Regions from separate parts of the Homo sapiens genome. Here region 2 is linked to region 1. Evidence: fine-mapped expression QTL. A gene starts in region 1. The other region holds a variant in brackets. All regions are shown on one strand. Distances are between the middles of the regions. Region 1 holds the start of GLIS1 (GLIS family zinc finger 1). Region 2 overlaps GLIS1 (GLIS family zinc finger 1).

Region 1 (9,795 bases):
AGTTTGAAACCAGCAGGGCCAACATGGTGAAACCCCATCTCTACTAAAAAATACAAAGTGGCTGAACCATTTTACATTTCCACCAGCAATGTTTGAGGGTTCCTATTTCTCCACATCCTCACCAACACTCATTTTTTTTTATGATTCCTCATCATTCAACTTGAGACATTCCTTTTATTCAGTTATATCATCCTATTGGATGTGAAGTGATATTTTATTGTGTTTTGTTTTTATTTATTTAAAAAATTTAAAAAAATTTTTGGAGATAGGGTCTCACTATGTTGCCCAGGCTAGAGTGCAGTGGCTATTCACAGACGTGATCATCAGCACTGCAGTCTCGAACTCCTGGCCTCAAGCAATCTTCCTACCTCAGCTTCTCTAGTAGCTCATTCTGGTTATGATTTGCATTTTCCTAATGGCTAATAATGTTGAGCATCTTTTCATGTGCTTGGCCACTTGTATATCTTCTTTGAAGAAATGTCTATTCAACTCCTGTGCCTATTTTTTCGTTGGGTTGTGTTTTTGTTTTTGAGTCGTGTGAGTTCTTTGTATATTCTGGAGGCTAGACCCTTATCAGATATATGATTTGCCTATATTTTCTCCCGTTCTGTAGGTTGTCTCTTCAGTATTTTGATAATGTTCTTTGGTGTACAAAAGTTTTAAATTTTGATGAAGCCTAATTTATTTTTTATTTTATTGCTCATGTTTTTGGTATTGTATCAAAGATCCAGACTGGTGTGGTGGCTCATGACTGTAATCCCAGCACTTTGAGAGGCCAAGATGGGAAGATCACTTGAGCCCAGGATATATGACCAGCCTGGGCAATATAGTGAGACTTTGTCTCTACAAAAAATTTAAAAACTTAGCTGAGCATGGTTGCACACACCTGTTGTCCCACCTACTTGAGAGTGTGTGGTCCCACCTACTTGAGAGGCTGAGGTGGGAGGATCCCTTGAACTCAGGAGGTTGAGACTGCAGTGAGCCCAGATTGCACCATTGTGTTGTAGCAGAGTGAGACTCTGTCAAAAAAAAAAAAAAAAAAAATCCACTGCCAAATCCAAGATCAAGAAGATTTACTCCTAAAAATTATTTTTTAAAAAGGTGTGTACCTCTGTGTTTTCTTCTAAGCATTTCATGGTTTTAGCTCTTACATTTAGGTCATTGGTCCATTGTGAATTACTTTTTGAATATGATGTGAGATGGGATCCAACTTCATTCTTTGGCAGGTGGATATCCAGTTGTCCCAATACCATTTGTTGAAGAGACAATTCTTTCCTCAGTGAGTGGTCTTGGCACTCTTATTGAAAATCAGTTGGCCATAGATGTATGGGAGGCAGAGACGCTCTTGACTGTGGGAACTTTGGGAGGTCACTTAATTTTGAACTTTTATCTTCTCACCTGTAAAATAGGGATGATAACCTCTTTATCCAGAGTTGTCAGGATTAAGTGAGGTCACATATGGAGAGTGTCAGCCATGGTACATGGTAGGTTCCCCATGTTAATTCTTCCCTTGCTGCAAGACACAGAGGCAGGGTAAGCAGTGTAACATCGATCACCTCTCTTCCTTCTCCTTCCTCCTATCTCCTGGACACAGGACACCTTAGACACAGAAATGTCTACTTTTACCTCAACCATTTGCTGAGTGAATGCTTACACCCCTGAACAAAGACAGTGAGGAGAGACGTCTTGATAGGGTGGGGAAGCTCTTAGCTAGAAATGTAGGCAAGCAAATGAATTAGTGGTGAGTCTTTAATAATTCAATCAGCATTCAGTAAATATTTACCTACTTTGTGCAGGAATCTCTTCTAGGTTCTGAAGATAGAAAGGCAAAAAGCTGCCCCTGACCTCACAGAGGTCTCATTCTAGAGGGGGGAGACAGGCTGTTACACAGGCAGTTACAAAACTGTAATAAGTTCTCAGATAGAATAAAGCAGAGGATTGTGAAAGTGTGCAGGGAGAAAATAGCTATAGCCCCCTCGAGGATTCAGGGAAGGCTTGTGGGAAGGTGACACTTGGGCTGGGTATGAAATGATTCATAGGAAGAAGTAGGCAAGGTGAATAAGGGGAGAAAATATTAGCATAGGAGAAATCATATACAGAGCTATGAAGGCATGAATATATGTTCCGGATTCTAGGAGATGAAAACTATTCCAAGGTGCTTGGAACATAGGGTAGGGGTGGGAGCAGGGTAAGAAAATGGTTTGATTTTATTTAGATGGCCATTGGGAGCTATGAGATTTAAACAGGGAAGTGCCATGGTCAGATCTATATTTTTATTTATTTATTTATTTACTTATTTATTTAGAGACAGGGTCTCTCTCTGTCACTTAGCCTGGAGTATGGTGGTATGATCATAGCTCACTGCAGTCTCAAACTCCTAGACTCAAGGGATCCTCCACCTCAGCTTCTTGATTAGCTGATAGTATAGGTGCAGGCCACCATGCCTGACTATTTTTTATTTTATTTTTTGTAGAGACAAGGTCTTGCTATGCTGCCCAGTCTGGTCTCCAATTCCTGGCCTCAAGTGATCCTCCTGTCTTGGCCTCCCAAAGTACTGTGATTACAAGTGGGAGCCACTGTGCCCGGCCAGATCTATACTTTAGAGACTGATAAGGAGACCAGTGTGGAAAATCACTAATTAGGAGAAGGATGAGGATGGAGGCAAAAAGAACTTGGAAGAAATGTAGTAGTGAGGATGGAGAGGAGGAGGATTGTTAGTTAAATTTATGACAAGTCAGATATAGGAGTATGGGAGAGGAGGGGCTGAGGATGACTCAGATTTCTGAACTGGGGGAGTTGGCCATAGGGCCATTCACCCAGTTAGGGACATAGGAGTGAGGAGCAACGTCAGAGATGAAAAAATGATGTTCGATTTTGCAGATGGATCCTGATAGAGATATCCAGTAGACAGACTGTGGGAGGGCAGAAGAGAGTGTGAGTTGTAACACGGGTTAGTGTAAAAAGCAGACATTACTGTCTAGCCTGCTAAAGTGAGAAGCAGGTTACTGTGTTTCACTTTATTTTGTTTTTGACAATTAAAATATTAAGGAGTTTTATTTTAATACCAAAAATATAAAGGAAAAAAATGCAGCACATAATCCCACTGCTCAAATAACCCCTATTGAAAGACAGGGAGGGGCCGGGCACAGTGGTTCATGCCTGTAATCCCAGCACTTTGGGAGGCCAAGGTGGGCGGATCACAAGGTCAGGAGTTCGAGACCAGCCTGGCCAATATGGTGAAACCTTGTCTACTAAAAATACGAAAATTAGTCAGGCATGGTGGTGCGCGCCTGTAGTCCCAGCTGCTCTGGAGGCTAAGGCAGAAGAATCACTTGAGTCTGGGAGGCAGAGGTTGCCGTGAGCTGGGATTGTGCCACTGGACTCCAGCCTGGGCAGACAGAGGAGTGAGACTCTGTCTCAAAAAAGAAAAAGAAAACAAAAAAAAAAAAAAAAGAGAGAGAGAGGGAGGATAATATATACTTAGAAAACACAAATCAGTTCAGACAAGTATAAAAATGAAAAGTGCAGGCCTTCCCTCAGTCCTCCATTCCCTTAACCACTGTTAACAGTTTCTTGTGTTTCCTTTGTGGAAAAAAAAAAAAGCATATACCTACTAGATTCTGAGTATCTCCAAAGGGGTTCTGCCATTTACAGTGTTTAAGAGGTCTGTTTTATTGAGCAGATTAAACTTCTCATCACTTTGCCAGCCTTCACAAACCCACCTATTTTGGTCAGGTGGACCTGTGAGCTCACTGAGGGGAAGGGGAGGGGGCGGGTTCTGTGTTTCTGTGTCCCTAGCTCAGGTATAGGGGCTGGCCCAGGGTAAGTGCTCAAAAGAATAATGGAAAGAGCTGTTTCTTCATCTGGAAATTTGGAGGGCCTTTGCTTTCAGGTCCAGTTGGTTAAATGACTCATTCAGCAAACGTTTTCAGAGTCCCGACTAAATGTGCAGCGCAGTGCTTGTTGTGTGTGTGTGTGTTTTGCAGCGGGGCGGCGGGGGGGGGCATTGTGGGGGGTGGAGGGAGGGCAGAGGACTTGGATCCTGGCCTTACTGAAGAGAAGAGCAGAACTAGAAAGGCCAGAGATCTTCCAACTTCATGCCTTTGGAGGGGGGAAGCTGAGGTCCAGAGTGAGGTTACCATTCGTCTAGAGCCACATGGCTTGTTGGCAGCAGAACCAGCTGTGACTCCACAAGAGTATGTGGTGGTGGGGGGTGCAGGCACTGAGTGAGGCGCAACCCTTGGCCTGTGTGTTATGGGCATGGTTGATTTACACCCTCTCCCTGTGAGCAGCAGAGTGGTTGGTACTGAAGGAACAGCATTGCCAGGAGTCAGGAAGCCTGGATCCCGGGGCTCTGCCACCCTCCACCACATTGACACAGGCCAGTCACGTCCTTTCTCCTCTGAATGGAGGGTGGGTCTAACTAAAACCTCAAAGTCTTTCTTACTATTATTACTCTAATTGTTAGATACTATTTTAAACAAATTATAGGAAATCCAATTTTATGATTTTGAAATTCTAAAATCCTGGTTTTCCAGGATTCTGAGGATGCTGCTTGGGGTCGGTTGTTCTGTGCAGAGTCCTGTGCTATGAACTTGACATGTTGTGTAGTCCAGAAGGGCTCCATATACATTTTCCAGTTTGAGACCAAGGTCAAAGAGACCAGACTTCAAAGGAGTTCGAAACCAGTCAGGCCCCTTGGAGCCAGCCCAGACCACCATCAAACAGTGCACAGGAGGCGCCTAGGTGAAATGCAGAAACCATTTCAGGGCTTGGCTGGATCCTTCGGTAGGCATGGCAGGTAGACCAGGCCTAGGCAAACACTGCCATTTTACACGGGAGGACTCAGGCTCAGAGCGGGGAACTGAGCCATTGCCTGCAGGCTCTGTGAAGCCTTACTGTTCTTTGTCCCGTGCTCTTCCTACACGTTGGGCAGGGCCCCCTGAGACACTGCGTGCTGTCTGTGGGGGAATCCCAGAAGGCAGGACAACAGAGTAGACCCCTAGAGTGGGTCTCAATCCCCAGATCTGTAAGGATCTCCTGGGAGCTCGCTAAAAGCCTAAGTGCTGGGGGCCTATTCCCCAAGACTCAATTGGAATATTTCCTAGTTGGGATCAGGCACCATTTTTTTATCTTTAACTTCAGAGTTTGAGACCTTTTACCCTGGACTCTTTCCGGCGGAAAACACAAAAACAAACGTAAGAAAGTGGGCTGAGAGGCCTGGGTTTGGGTCCCAAATTTGCTGCCCACTAGCTGTGAAATCTCTGCAAATTCTCCAGTGAGAGGGTTGGATTCTGCAAGAAAACTTTTCAAGCACTTTCGCATCTGTCCGCTTCGCGTTAGCAGACAGCGTCGTTCCCATCTGACGGAGGGGAAAACCGACCGGGAGAAGGGAGGATCCTGCCCGGGGCTAGTGGAGAGGCGGGCAGGGAGCCGGGTTCAGCCCGGCACTCCTCACGCCCAGCGCACTCCGCCGACCCCCGAGCCCAGCCTCTCTCGCCGCGGCGCCGCCCCGCCGTCCTGCCCGGCTCGGCCGTCTGAGAACAGCGGGCAGCGCGGGGATCCAGCCGGCCGCCGCCTGTCAAACCCTCTGCTCAGCCCCGCGTCGGGCCCCGCCCAGACCCCCAGGGGGGGATGCCCCGCCCTCGCGCCGCGATTGGCCTGAGCCGGGCGGCCGCGGCCAGCCAGTGGCTGGAGCGGCTGTTGGGCAGACGCGGGCCCGCCCCCGTCCCCCGGGGAACCGCCCCGCAGGACGCGGCGGCGGCGGCGGCGGCTGCGGCGGCTGCGGGGGCTGCTGCGCCAGTGGAGGCGCGCCGAGCCGGGCGCCCAGCGATCTGCAGCTGCCGCTGCGAGGTGAGAGGGGGCGCGGCCCGCGGCCGAGGGAGGGGCGTGTGCGGGGCCCGAGATCCGAGGCTGGCGTCCCGGCGACGCTCGAACCCCGGCAGCTTGGGGATGGCGCAGGGAGCGCGGAGGGGAACGGAGAGTTTGGGGGCCCCTGATGGAAGGGCTGAGGGAGGCTCTGTCGCGGCCCCCATCGCACGCGCGTGTGGCGAGAGCGTGGGACTGTGTGGTTGTGCGCTGCTGAGCGTCTGACCAGCGGCAGTGTGGGTGGCGTGTCCGTCCCCGGGCGTGCCTCGGCGGGTGTGCGGGTGTGTGGCGGCGGCCGCGTGGGCATTGCCCACTGTGCCGGTTTGCGCGCGCGACGGGCTCGATTCCTCCGCTGCGCATAGGAATGTGGGTGTCCCGGCTGCGCGTGATGGGTTCGCGTCGCAGGATTCAGCGCCCAGCTTGGGACTCCTGTTTTCCAGGTTCGGGTGGTCGCGGGTGAGTCTCTGGGGGTTTCCCTCGGGCCTTTGGGTTCGGGTCCCCAGCTTCTGCGCGCAGCTCGGCCCCGGAGAGTCGACGAAGCGCGCAGCCCGTGACCTACCCGGAGCCGTCTCCGGGGCTTCGCCCGAGCCCTGCTCTGGGAATCCTCGTTGCCGCCGGCTCCGTGTTCCACTGGGGGACGCGGAACAGGCGCCTTACCCGCTCCAGGCCTCAGTTTCACCATTCGTGCAAAGGAGGCTGGTTTCGGTGGAGGAGGATTTGGGTGGGACTTCGCGGTAATGCGCCGCGGCGCGGGGGCCTGGGGTCCTCCCCACACCAGGGAAGGGCGAACCGCTCCTGAGCGAGGGGGCTTTTGCGTGGAATCAGGTGGGTTTGACCTCTGATTGGGCTAGGTGTCGTGGTGCTAACCTATGTTAAAGACGCGCAATCCACCGAAGGGGCAGTGACCTGCTCAAACTCGGCCCCGGGACAATACGGGGGCCGCTTTCCGCATTCTAACTGGCTGTGCTGTCTCCCCTCCCCAGGAGCCCGGCGCGACCCCCAGCCGTGCGCCCCGCCCCGGCGCCATGCATTGCGAGGTGGCTGAGGCACACTCGGACAAGAGGCCTAAGGAGGCCCCTGGTGCGCCCGGCCCCGACCGCGGCCCCGCCAGCCTCGGCGCGCACATGGCCTTCAGGGTCACCGTGAGTGGCGGCGGCTGCGGGGACAGGGGCCCGCGGGACCTGCTAGCCCGGCCGCCTGCGCCGCCACCGCGCGCCCACGACCTCCTCCGGCCCCGCAGTCCCCGAGACTACGGTCCATCCAAGGCCGCCGCCGCCGGGAAGGGTGAGTTCGGCCCTGCCAACGTGCCTGGCGGCTCCTGTGGAGATTCGGGCTGCCCGGCGTCGCCACCGCGTGCTCGGGAGAGCTTGGTGGAACTTTCTTCGGAGTTCCTCAGTTTCTCTCTTATTGTTTGGGACTAGCTTGTCAGTGTGAAAGTATGCCTGCTTTGCGAAGCATCTAATTTAAATTCAATTAGCCCCGTTTGGGGAAATGTGTTTATAGAAAGCTCTCAGCTTACATAATTTTGCTTCTGTGTGTTTCTGATAAAGCTTGCATAGAAACTTGTCAAAATTTTATTATACATGAGGGCGAATAGCAACGCATATATTGGTATCTGTTTCTGAGCAGCTCAAGGCATAGTTTGAAGTATTTCAATCTCCTCAGCTGACAAAACCCAGAGGCCTTTAGCAAGACCCCTCTCCTTTTGGGACCTCAGTTTCCCCATCTGTCAAGTGAGGAATTAATTAAACCAGATGATTTCTGGATTCCTGATGGAAAATTTTCTGCATCAGCAATCCAGCCTAGTCACGTCCTAACTTAAACATGGCTTTTCTGTACTTGGTGCTTCGGCAGCCTAGTCTTGGGTCACAAGCTCCTTGGCAAGTCCCTTCGTCCCCCAGTGAAGCTGGCCACGGGAAGGTGGGGGTCCCAGTATGGCTTATGGGCTCAAAGTCGGAGATGGTGCTGGGATTTTCAGGAACATGCTCTTCTCATCACAGTTAATTATTATTGAGTCATTATTTATGAGTTTCGTGCTGACAGATAATTAACCAGGAATTGGAGAAATTGTTAAGATGCTGTGTCCTCGTCCTCCCCCCTTTTTTTTTCCCTTAGGGGAAACCAAGGCTTTGGGGTTTGACTATATCTGCATTTGGAACCTCTTGGTTCTCATTCCAGATGATTCTCAAGGAAGACAAAAACAGTTTGGGTTTTACGGTTATAGGCATCACTTCCTAGCATCAGCCTCACAACTCGGAAGGGGTAGGCAGCCTACTTTTAGAGTTGAGAGCTCCTTGTGGATCAAAAACACCCAACTCCCTGGTTCAGGGATTAGTAAAATGAAATAAACATAAGTAGTTTTTTTCTTTTTTGAAGAAAACACTTGACTTTGTAAGAGAGAACTACTTCTCATCTCCTTGTTTTAGATGCCAGCCTCTTTTTCAAGGGATAGAGATAATATTTTAGAAGGACAGATACAGTGGGGAGGGGCGGGAAATGCCTGCTGAGTGTTATTGCTGGAATACACACATATGAGGTCTCTTTTACCAGAGAGGAGCGCTGCGCAGCGAGACATGAGTAATGTTTGCTGCCGGGAGCTCCCTGGCTTGCCCCGCTCCATACACAATCCTCCCTTAAATAGATACCCTCCTGCAACGTTCTGTGTTTAAAAAAATCATGGCTGTCCTCTGAAGATCGAGTTCTCTGCAGACCTAGCAAACAGCTCTCCCGAACATAATCTTTGTTCCACGCTATGGTGAGACCTTTCACCTGGGGGCTTTGTGTACGATCTTCCTACTTCCATTCCCCCTAACCCCAGTTATTTTTACGCACGCCCCCAAACATGTCCAAAATAAAAGATCTTTAAGTCAGGATTCCATTTGGAAAGGGCAGAGGAGAATAAAGGGATGGGAGGAAGAGCCTCTTTCTTTGTACCTTAAGCTGGTCTCTCTGGTGAAGCTTTTTTCCAAGAGGTTTCACAACTTTTCTTCATAGCCTCCCAGTGAGGCTGTTGTGGTGGGATGTATCCCACTCATTTGAAGGGTGAGGAAACTGAGGCCTGAAGGTGGGAAAGTGTTTGGTATGTGTAGGGCAGTGGTTAGGGAAGCCACAGCTCTGGCCTAACCTGGCCTAGGGAGAAAGGGAAGGCTCAGGGTCCTGGGCTTGGAGAGGTTTCCCTGCTGGCCTCTGTGTTGCTATAGGCAAGCTTTTCCTCACAGTGCAGTCACCAAGTGGCCCGAGACAAACCCAGCTTTCCCCCAGTTCTTCAGCGTCCTTAAAAATGCTGCGAGGAAACGGCACCTTCTTACTGCCCCTACTCCCACCGAAATAGTCCCAGACCATGTAACCCTTTGAATATTTGGTGTCTAGCTCCAAGTTCTCAGGCTTATTGGAAACAGACAGAAATACCAATTGAAAAATATGTATTGACTGTGCTGGGAATTGTGAGACCCCACCATCTATGATCTGTGGCACTTGGGGGAATCGATTTTACTCTTCTGAGCCTTTGGTTCCTTCGTTTGTAAATTTACCCTGAGACTTAATTCGCAAGACTGATGAGATCATTAGTGATAAAGAATGTGCAAGGGCCACCTCAGTGCCTGGTTATTTTTAGGATTACTACTGTAACCTGTTTCACATTCTCAACCTCTGGGTTTTCATTTGCGTGAGAGGTAATGGTGCCTACCTTGCAGGGTAAATAAAACAAGAGTTGTAAGAATGCCTTATAAGCTAAAAAGGTAGAAGGAGGCACTTTTATTAATTCGTGCAGGGCCCATGCAAGGGTCAGTGACACTTGAGATAAAGGGGACAGAGTGAGAAGGAAGCAAGGTTACATTTTTAAAATGCTGAATGTGAAGGGTGCTAACTGTGGTGTGCTAGCCAGGGGAGGCTGAGAGGTGCCAAGCTTCAGGTCTTTTGTGGCCACAG
Region 2 (8,558 bases), 200 kb after region 1:
GTGATGCTTGAATGGTAGGAGAGTGGTAAGGGACCGGCAGTCCTGGCCGCAGCATCGGGATGACAGTGAGAGAACTGGGAAGGCCTCAGGCTTGAGCCAAGCCTAGAGTGACAAGGAGGACTGGCCAGTGAACAGGGGCACCTTGAGCAGAGGACACCGCATGGGCAAAGGCGTGGAGGCGGCAATGTGTGGCCTGTGGCTGCAGCGTGGGGAGGGAAGTAGACATTGGGCTAGAGAGGTCAGTGGAGATCTCTCAGGCTATGCATGCTGTCCCCAAGGCCAGGCCAGGCCAGCCACCACTCAGAGGTCAGGAGGCGCAGTGGACCCAGCCCCTCAGTGAACCCCACACGCACATCCATGTTCCAGGTGGCCAGTTTCCACGTGTGCTGTGCTATGCGTGGGGCAGTGTGTCGGTGTGGCTGGTGGGTGGGGGTTAGTGTGTTTGTGAATGTGGCAGGTCTGGGGCTTGGACGTCTTTGGGTATATGTGTGAACATGTGTGTCCTGGCCTGTGTGTTTTTGTGATATGAGTCATGGGGTGTAAACACAGTTTATGTGTATGATGTGTAGTGTGTGTGGGGGGGTGTATACCGTGTGGTATGTGTGTGTGTGGTGTGGTGTGTGTATGTTGGGGGTGTGGTACGTGTGTGTGGGAGGTATGATGTGTATGTATTGGGGGTGTGCTGTGATGTGTGGTATGGTGTGTGTGTGGGGTGTGCATTCATGTGCTGTGGAGTGTGTGTGTGGTATGATATGTGTGGGTGTGTTATGTGGTATATATGTGGGGATATGGTATGTGTGGGTGAATTGGGGTGTGTGTGTTTAGGTGTAGTGTGTGTGTGTGTGTGTGAGGGAGTTTCTGGGTCTTGGTGTGTGTGTGTGTGTGAATCCATGTGTGTGTGTTGGTGTGTGTTGGGGCTGTCTCCGACGTGTGGCTTGGTTGGAGGGAGAGGTGTTCACATCAGAGTGTGTGAGTGTCCACGTTTCTGGGCCTGTGGCTGGTGGCTTGGTGTACATGTGTCAGCCATTCTATGCTGTGTGCTCTCTGCGGAGCCCTGGCCCCTGGCAGAGCCTCTTTCCTCATTCCAGACGATGTCTAGCCACAGCTCTGCACTGGGAGAGCCCCTGGATCCCACCTGTCCACTTGGGCCCAAGAGAAGCTGACTCAGCCCCTCCTGCACCTCCTACTTTCGGGGGTTCCACATGCCCTGGAAGGGTGACTCTCTTGATCCTTGCTGGCCGGCCACCTTTCCAGGAGATGCCTCAACTGCACTGCTGGGGACAGGAACCCATTTCTTGCCCAGACAGGAACTTTTGCCAGAGAAGAGCCCAGCCCAGAGCTGTCAGTGTGTTCCTGGTGAGGAAGGGTCAGGGTGTCTGCAGCCCCCACCCCCTCAGCCTTGAGATCCTCCTCCCAAGGACAGGCCCACCCGCATGGGCTCCCAGAGGAGGTGTATGGTCCCTCTGTCCTGTTCTCCCTTGCCTCACTGTGTGCCCCCAGCCCTCCCTGGCCTGCCAGCTGCTTATGAAGGCCCAGTGAGCAGATGGTCTTGCCTCTCATGGCAGTGCTCGATCATGGCTACCTGGGACCAGAGTGTGCCCAGGGCACAGACCTCGGCACTGGAGGTGAACCCAGGCTCCATCCCATGAGTGAGCGCTGGGACTCTGGCACTTCACCTAAACTCAGTTTCCACCTCTGTAACAATAGGGGTTGCAGGATTAGTGAGATGGTGTTTAGGGAGAGCTTGGCCCAGTCCTAGGCACATGGTCAATGTGATAGCTGCTGTTCTGCTCAGTCCCCGCACATGCCCCACTTTCCATTCATGTATGCAGGTGGCACTGCATCCCCAAACACCAGACCCTCGAGAGCCTCACGGTCCAAATCAAAGAGCCCGGGTCAGTGCCCTCCAGCCTCACCCCCAGGACCCTCCTCCCGTCTGTCCGTTCCATTCTTGCCTCAACCTCCCCACAGAGGACTGGCGAAGCCCCAAACTCTGAGGAGACCCTCAAGGAGCCCCACGGGGGAGCACAGGACAGTAACCTCAGGCCAGCCAGCGGCCCCTCCCAGAGTGCAGGAGCGAGGAGCGGCCCTCAGTGCCCAGCTTGCTGGCCTTTAAAGCTGGCCAAACGCAGGATTATTTGACATGTTGGAGAAGGAGCTGGCATTGCATTTCTCCCATCCACATCATTGTTGTAAAGTAACTTAAAAGTTCGTACAAAAATGAGAAGTTGATCCCTGAATGGCCTGCCAGACTTTTGTAACCCAATATATTTTACCCTTAAACCAGAAATGTGTTTATTTAGAAGCAAGTCACTGGCAAATGCTAAAACTGAAGGCATTTCCTCCCCTGCCCCCGTGCCATGCCCTGTTCCCCCAAACCTCCTCTTCACTCTGTGTCCAGATTCTTAGTTAGAGCATGAGAAACTGAACCCTGCCTCCTTTTTGGGCCATGCCAGCCGCAGGCAGGAAACTTGACATTCATTAGGCACCAGCTATGTGCCAGTTCCTACACTGGGCATATTCTTTTATTTACTTCTACCAGCCGTTTGTGGTGGCCCCATTTTAGAGAAGAGAAAAACGAGGACAGAAATGAGGCGTGACTAGCCCAGGTTCAGGCTCCCGGTGGTGGATCCCCAGCACAAACCTCTGTTTGCGTGACTTGATTTGCAGCACTTTGGTTTGCGGCATGGTGTCACCAACTCACATGTGAAACAGGGCCCTTGGTTCTTCCCCAGGAGCCAGAGGGAGAGAAGAGCCATCACCTAGTGCCAGCGGCACGCCAGGCACTGTGCTGGGGCTCCCCTGCATGCTCTTAGCCCGTCCACAGATGCATAAAAGGCTCTGAGTGTGGCTTGCTGAGGAAGGTGGACCCACCCTGCAACTTGAACGTCTGAGCCAGCCCCCAGCGGATCTTGGGCTTCAGCCCTCCCCCTCCCCAAGCCAGAGCTTGAGGGGTCCCTGGGCTTGGCCCAGAGGCGAGGATGCCACCCCCTGCCTGGCTCCTGGGATGGCTCCCCTCTGTCTTTCATCTCCTGCCCTCTGCTCTGTGAGCGGCACGCAGCAGTAATGGATTGCAGTGGACATTTTTCAATTAGGTTCTGATTTTCCCCTGCCTGTCACTATAAAACTCCAGATGGTCTGGGGCTTCACGGTTCCCGGGGTATTTTCCCCGTTTTTTTAATCTTCTGCTGTAACACACCCCACATGTGGGAATTGGGCCTTTCAAGGCTGTTCTGTGGATCAGCTGGTACTTTCTTCTCCACTGTGCCACCTGGTTTTCCTTTCTGCATGGAGGCATCCACTGTGGGCATCCTCCCTTCCCAGCGTCAGCTCTGGGGCTGGGCCCAGGCCTGGCCTTGCCCCAGGAATGGAACCTGTGACGCCTGGTTTGAAATGACAGTACTAGCTCCTGAGAGAGAACTTGTCTTTTGGTGCTTTAGGTAGGAGTCCCTGAGGCAGTGGCCAGAGTGGTTAGGGACACATATAGACTCATCAGCCAGACCCAAGGTCAGATTCCTGCTCCGTCACTGACTGGCTGTGTGACCTGGAGCCAGTGACATCACCCTTCTGAGCCTCAGTTTCTTATTCTGCAGAGTGGGCTGGGAAGTAGCTTCCTCAGCGGGGAACGTTGTCTGAATTAAATGAAACACACACAGCACTTGGCCTACGGTAGGTGTCAGAGAAAGTGTCACCCAGTCACTACTGTCATTCTGAATTCACCCCAACTTCATCTTCAAATATGTTTTACTGTTTGTGTATTTTGGGGTAAATAAGAAAAACCTAACCACCTATTCTTACATTTTTCAAGATTGTTATACATGCCTGCTTTTCCTTCTCCCCATCCTGGGTACCCCCTGCCCTCAGTATCACCTTCTCTGTTCCCATGGTGTGGGAGCCCTTCCTTCTAGCCAGATCAGTCTGTTGTGTTTTTGGTTATTTGAGCCAGTGTGTCTCAAATCCACCCTCGACAGAAGGTGCCTGT[A/G]TCATTCTCTGCATGGACAGATGGCGTCAGAGCGCTGATGCCTCTGCACACAGTGGTTCACAGAGCCCCCACAGTGTGCCCCTTCTTACATCTGAGGTATCTGGTCTCTGACAAGTGAAATGAGCTCACCCTGATTCATCGGGTCGGGAAGCGTGGAGGCCAGCTTTGCACCCAGGCTGATCTGAAGCTGGAATGCATTGGTGTGGGTACGGGGGTTGGAGGGTACAGATGCCACCAAGCCAGCACCAAGGGACCAGATCATGCTGGCCAGAATGCCAGGGTGAGGATCTGTACATGTTGAGGCACTGGGGAACCATGCAGGGTTTGAGCAGGGAGGGACACAGAGCTATGGGCTTAAGTCTTCTTTTCAGATAGCTCGTGGAAATGGGTTGGGAAAGGCAGGAGGGAGGCAGGATGGCACCTGTGCAGTCACCCAGGTAAGTGATGCTGGGGTGTGGATTAGGGCAGTGGGTGGATAAGAAGAGAAGGGGGCAGACCTGGAAGGTGATTACAAGGTGGCATTTCCTGGGCTGGTGACTAGTTGGATGCAGGGCCCAGAGAGGAGGGAACATGTTCCTGGCTCAAGCATCCAGGTAGAAGGTGGGAGGTCAGGGGCCCCATACCCACCCAGCCATCCACCATGAGGGACTGAGAGGCCCCAAGGTGGGCTGGCCATGTGCCAGCAACTCAGGGCCATATGTGCTTGAGGCTTAGGGGCCCATGTCGCACCCTCCTGCACCGGTCCAGCCCAGTGCCTGGACTCACGGTAGGTGCTTAGTAAAGGTAGATGGAAGAAACAGTGACAGCTCAGACCCAGGGCATCAGCCCTGCGTGACCTGGGGTGGTCCAGCCAGCAGAAGTCGCACCAGAGTCCCTCAAGTGAAGAGCCTGTGCCACATCAGTCCTTGCATGGAGTGGCTTCTGTGAAGTCTTTAGAATCAAAAATCCCCAAATTTGCCTGCTGCAGAAGGAACCACTACCCCATGTGTTTGAATGAAGGGAGCCCCCAAAACTCCCATTTCTACTTTCACCTCTCCTCTCCCTGCTTCCCTTCCTTCTCTGCTCAATAGATCCTTAGCTGTTTCCAGAACATATCCCACCTCTTCCAGCCTCCCTGCTTTTGTTCATGCTTTGCCCTCTCCCTGGAATGCTTTTCCTGGCTCTGTGTTTCTAGCCCCTGCCTGGGTGTCAGGGCTGAGCTCCTCTGTGAAGGCTTTTGTAGCTCCCCAGCCTCTGCCAGCCAGAAGCCCCCGGGTCAGCCCCTTCCTAGGGCTCTGAACAAGTTCCAGTGTGTTTGGAGCTATGGGTCTTTGACGCCCTTGGGTCTCAGCTCAGAGCACACTGCCAGGCACACAGAGGGGCAGCTGAGTGAGGCAGGAGGATAAGAACCTGTGTGCTCAAAGAGGAGAGGATGAGTGAGTGACTCGCAGAAGTGCGTGAGTGGAAGGATGGGGGGTGCACAGTAGCAGGGATGGGGTGGGTGGTCAGGTGGGGGTGGAGGGATGGGGTGCACAGCTGGCTTTCAGGCCACAGGGCTTACCTTGTGTTGCAGGCACTTCTTTCTCAGGAGAGATGGCAGTTCTGCCTATGGCATAGCTCAGGCTCAGTGCCCCTGGCACAGGGGGAACAATCTCCCTCTCTGAACCCCCCACATAGAGGCACTCAGCCCTTGCAGTGGGGGTCCAGGGTCTGCTCTGCCAGCCTGTACCCTTGGACACTGGCAGCAGGAAGCAGGTGTCTGTCCAGGACAAATGTACCATAGAGCCTGAGGCGACCGGGATGTCAGGAAGGCCCCGCCCCAGTGGCACTCCCTGTGGTGCAGGCCCCATGGAATCATTACGATGCCCTCGGGTCGTGGTGCCATTACCTGAAGGTAAGTCCTCCCTCCACCTGAGAAACCAAGGTCGAAGCCAGGGACGTGCTAGATGGCTGCATTTCTGGTCTCACAAGCCCCATGCATCCATTCTGCAGCATCTGTGCCCCCACAACCCAATGGTGGGGGTTCCCTCCCTGCAGCCCTCCCAGCCCTACACAGCCTATGGATGGGGGCCCTTCAAGCCACACCCACCCCAAAGGCTACCTCGCACTCATTGGAGGCTGCTCCCGGGACCCAGAGAGCTCCCCCTGGGCTGGGTCTACACCAGGGTCCGTGTGTGTAACCCCTGTGCTGGCTGCACCCTGAGCATCAGCTCCCCATCTGTCAGTGGAGACAGTAATACTTGCCTACTGGGCAGTGAAGAAGATAAGGTGCCACATTTGTGACAGCACCAGGCCCAGCAGAACCAAGCACACAATAGGTGCTGAACTGATGGTCGCTCTCATCCCTCTTTCTGTGCCTCTGTTGTCCCCATCTGTGCAGTTGTTGACTAGGAAGGACCACAGGGACCTTGGCAGCCAGCTGCAGGCAGATCCCATAGGCCCTCAAGGCCCCTGGCGTGTCTGGGATGCTGGTCCTGATGGGGCATGACTCTGGCTCTGCCAGGGGTGCCTGCAGCATCCTCATCCCAGACCAGTCCTGATGGGGCAGTGCCCCTTCGTCTGCTGGTACCTCTGTTTCCACCTGGAGGGACGGGCCACTCTCATCAGGGCATCCCAGCCAGCTGCTCATTATACCCCAGCCTGTGGCTCAGCTCTGGAAAGTTCCAGGGGGCGGGGAGCAGAACAAGGCTGGGCCAACATACATGGGCACAGCACAGGCATCAGGGCACACGCACTTATCGGGGTACCTTTCTGCACACTGGGGTAAGGGGGTGTACTCACAGGGGTGCGTGGACTGCATGCCCAGCAACCCCCATATCATGCTTCTGTCCCACCCTTTGCCCCATGATTGAGATGCCAGCCCTGCTCTCAAGGAACTCTCAAACTCTCAGCCTGGAGGCATGGGGAGAAGGCCATGGCTGTGCAGGGAAAACCTACCCCACAAGCTCATGGGTGTCACAGAGGATGGGGTGGGGAAGTTTGAGGCAGGCTTCTGAGAGAGAGTGCTTAAGCAACAGGAGTAGATGTTTGCTAAAAGAGCAAATAAAGGAAAGGCATTCCAGGCCTAGGGAACAACTGAAGTAAAGGCCTGAGGGCATGGAAATTCCTAACAGAATTCAGGACTGTTCAGACACAGTCTCACTCCTGCAGATCACGCGTGGAGCGTCTGCATGGGAGAGGCAGTTGGGTCCATGTTGGAAGACCATGAACACCAAGCTGCAGATCCTGTGTTTGAAAAACGTATGAATTAGATGGTCAGAGAGTTGGAAGGGAAGGAGTCCCAGGAGGGGGACAGTCCGAATAGAGACAGAGCAACTGTGCTGAGCAGAGGGTTGGCCAAGGCAGGAATACACAGACCTCGGGGAGAAGATGATGTATCGATCATGGTCCACCTTCCAGCACTCTCCCACAGTCAGGAAAATGACGAAGCCTGGAGGAGTTATTGTCCTCTGCTGTAGATACCTCCCTGCCCTGCATGGGCCAGAGGGGAACAAAGGATGCTGAGAGGAAGCCCCACTCTCCAGCCCGGGCTCCCCCATCTCACGTTGGGGTGAACTTGGCACAAGGCCATTGCAGGCGAGCAAGGGAGGTGGCTTGCAGCCTATTTACTGCCCAAACAGGATTTCCTCCTGGTTTGGATGCATGAAAAAGGCACAACATCTGGAAGTAGGAAGCAGAACAGCTTCTAAAACCCAGCTGTGGGTGGCTCGCCTTGGACCCGCCCCAGCAGAGCACGGCCCCAAGTTGTGACTGGGCTTCCAGGGGACAGGCGCAGAGGGAGCTGTCCCGGAACCATCATTGTCTCTCGTGTCTCTTGTGTCTCTCATATCTGTCTGAGCAGCTCTGCCCTGGCCTGTGCTCCATCTGCCACCTCTGCCCTGGATGGGGCGTTGGTGACCCTCCTCTGGAACTGCTACAATTGCCATCTTCCTGTCTCCTCCCCCGGTCCCCACTTGTCACCAGCAGCCAGAGAGGTCTTCCTAGGGCACATATCTGAGCCTGTCCTTTCCCTTCTTTAGGAGAAGTGTCTCCACTTTCCCCAAGGTGGAGTCCAGGCTCACTGGCCCAGCATTTGAGTCCCCGCTATCTGGCCTTTGAGCTCCCTGCAGACTCCTTGCCCAGTAGAGCCCAGCCCACCCCCAGCGTAATGAACCCCACATCAACCACTCAGGGGCCTTCACAGGGAATCTGTGCCTTTTTCATGCTTTGGTGCCTGCCCTTCCTTGGCCTTCAGTGTGCGTCACCCCACTATCTTCTTTGGATCTGTTGGTTGCAGTTCAGGGCTCGGGCAGGGCCAGAGACAGAATGAGGTGAATGCATCAGTGTTGGGGGAATTGCCTGCCTGTGTCTCCACACTGCTACATGTCTGTCTAAGCTCGCTACAGTCATCAAGCCCGTGGAAGCAGCTCGCGGCCCACAGGCTGCCTCAGGCATCTCCTCTGTGTGGCCACAGCCCCTGTGTCTCCCTCTGTGACATCTCAACCACGTCGCTTTATGGTGGTGTGCGTGTGTGCATCTCCCACATGGGCTCTCTACACCTAGAGGGCAGGACCCATGTCTGAGTTCTCTCTGCAGCTTGGCACTCACCGCAGACTGG

The links. PIP is the estimated chance that this variant, and not a neighbour inherited with it, causes the effect. A credible set is the group of variants that fine-mapping cannot tell apart.
Region 2: its variant is the best candidate, but not a certain one, in a credible set for the expression of GLIS1 in cerebellar hemisphere (GTEx, PIP 0.82).

The regions. Positions count from the first base shown.
Region 1 is chr1:53,735,163-53,744,957 of GRCh38, reverse strand. GLIS1 (GLIS family zinc finger 1) reads left to right here and starts at 5,794. Exons shown (of 11, transcript NM_001367484.1): 1 at 5,794-5,853; 2 at 6,852-7,152. The coding sequence starts at 6,894. RefSeq lists silencers at 5,445-5,794, 5,805-5,974 and an enhancer at 5,660-6,378.
Region 2 is chr1:53,531,572-53,540,129 of GRCh38, reverse strand. The region is part of intron 4 of GLIS1 (GLIS family zinc finger 1); the gene reads left to right. Among named protein-coding and RNA genes, the nearest start is that of DMRTB1, 76 kb to the right of the region's middle. RefSeq lists an enhancer at 1-736. The variant A/G (reference allele first, on the strand shown) is at 3,983.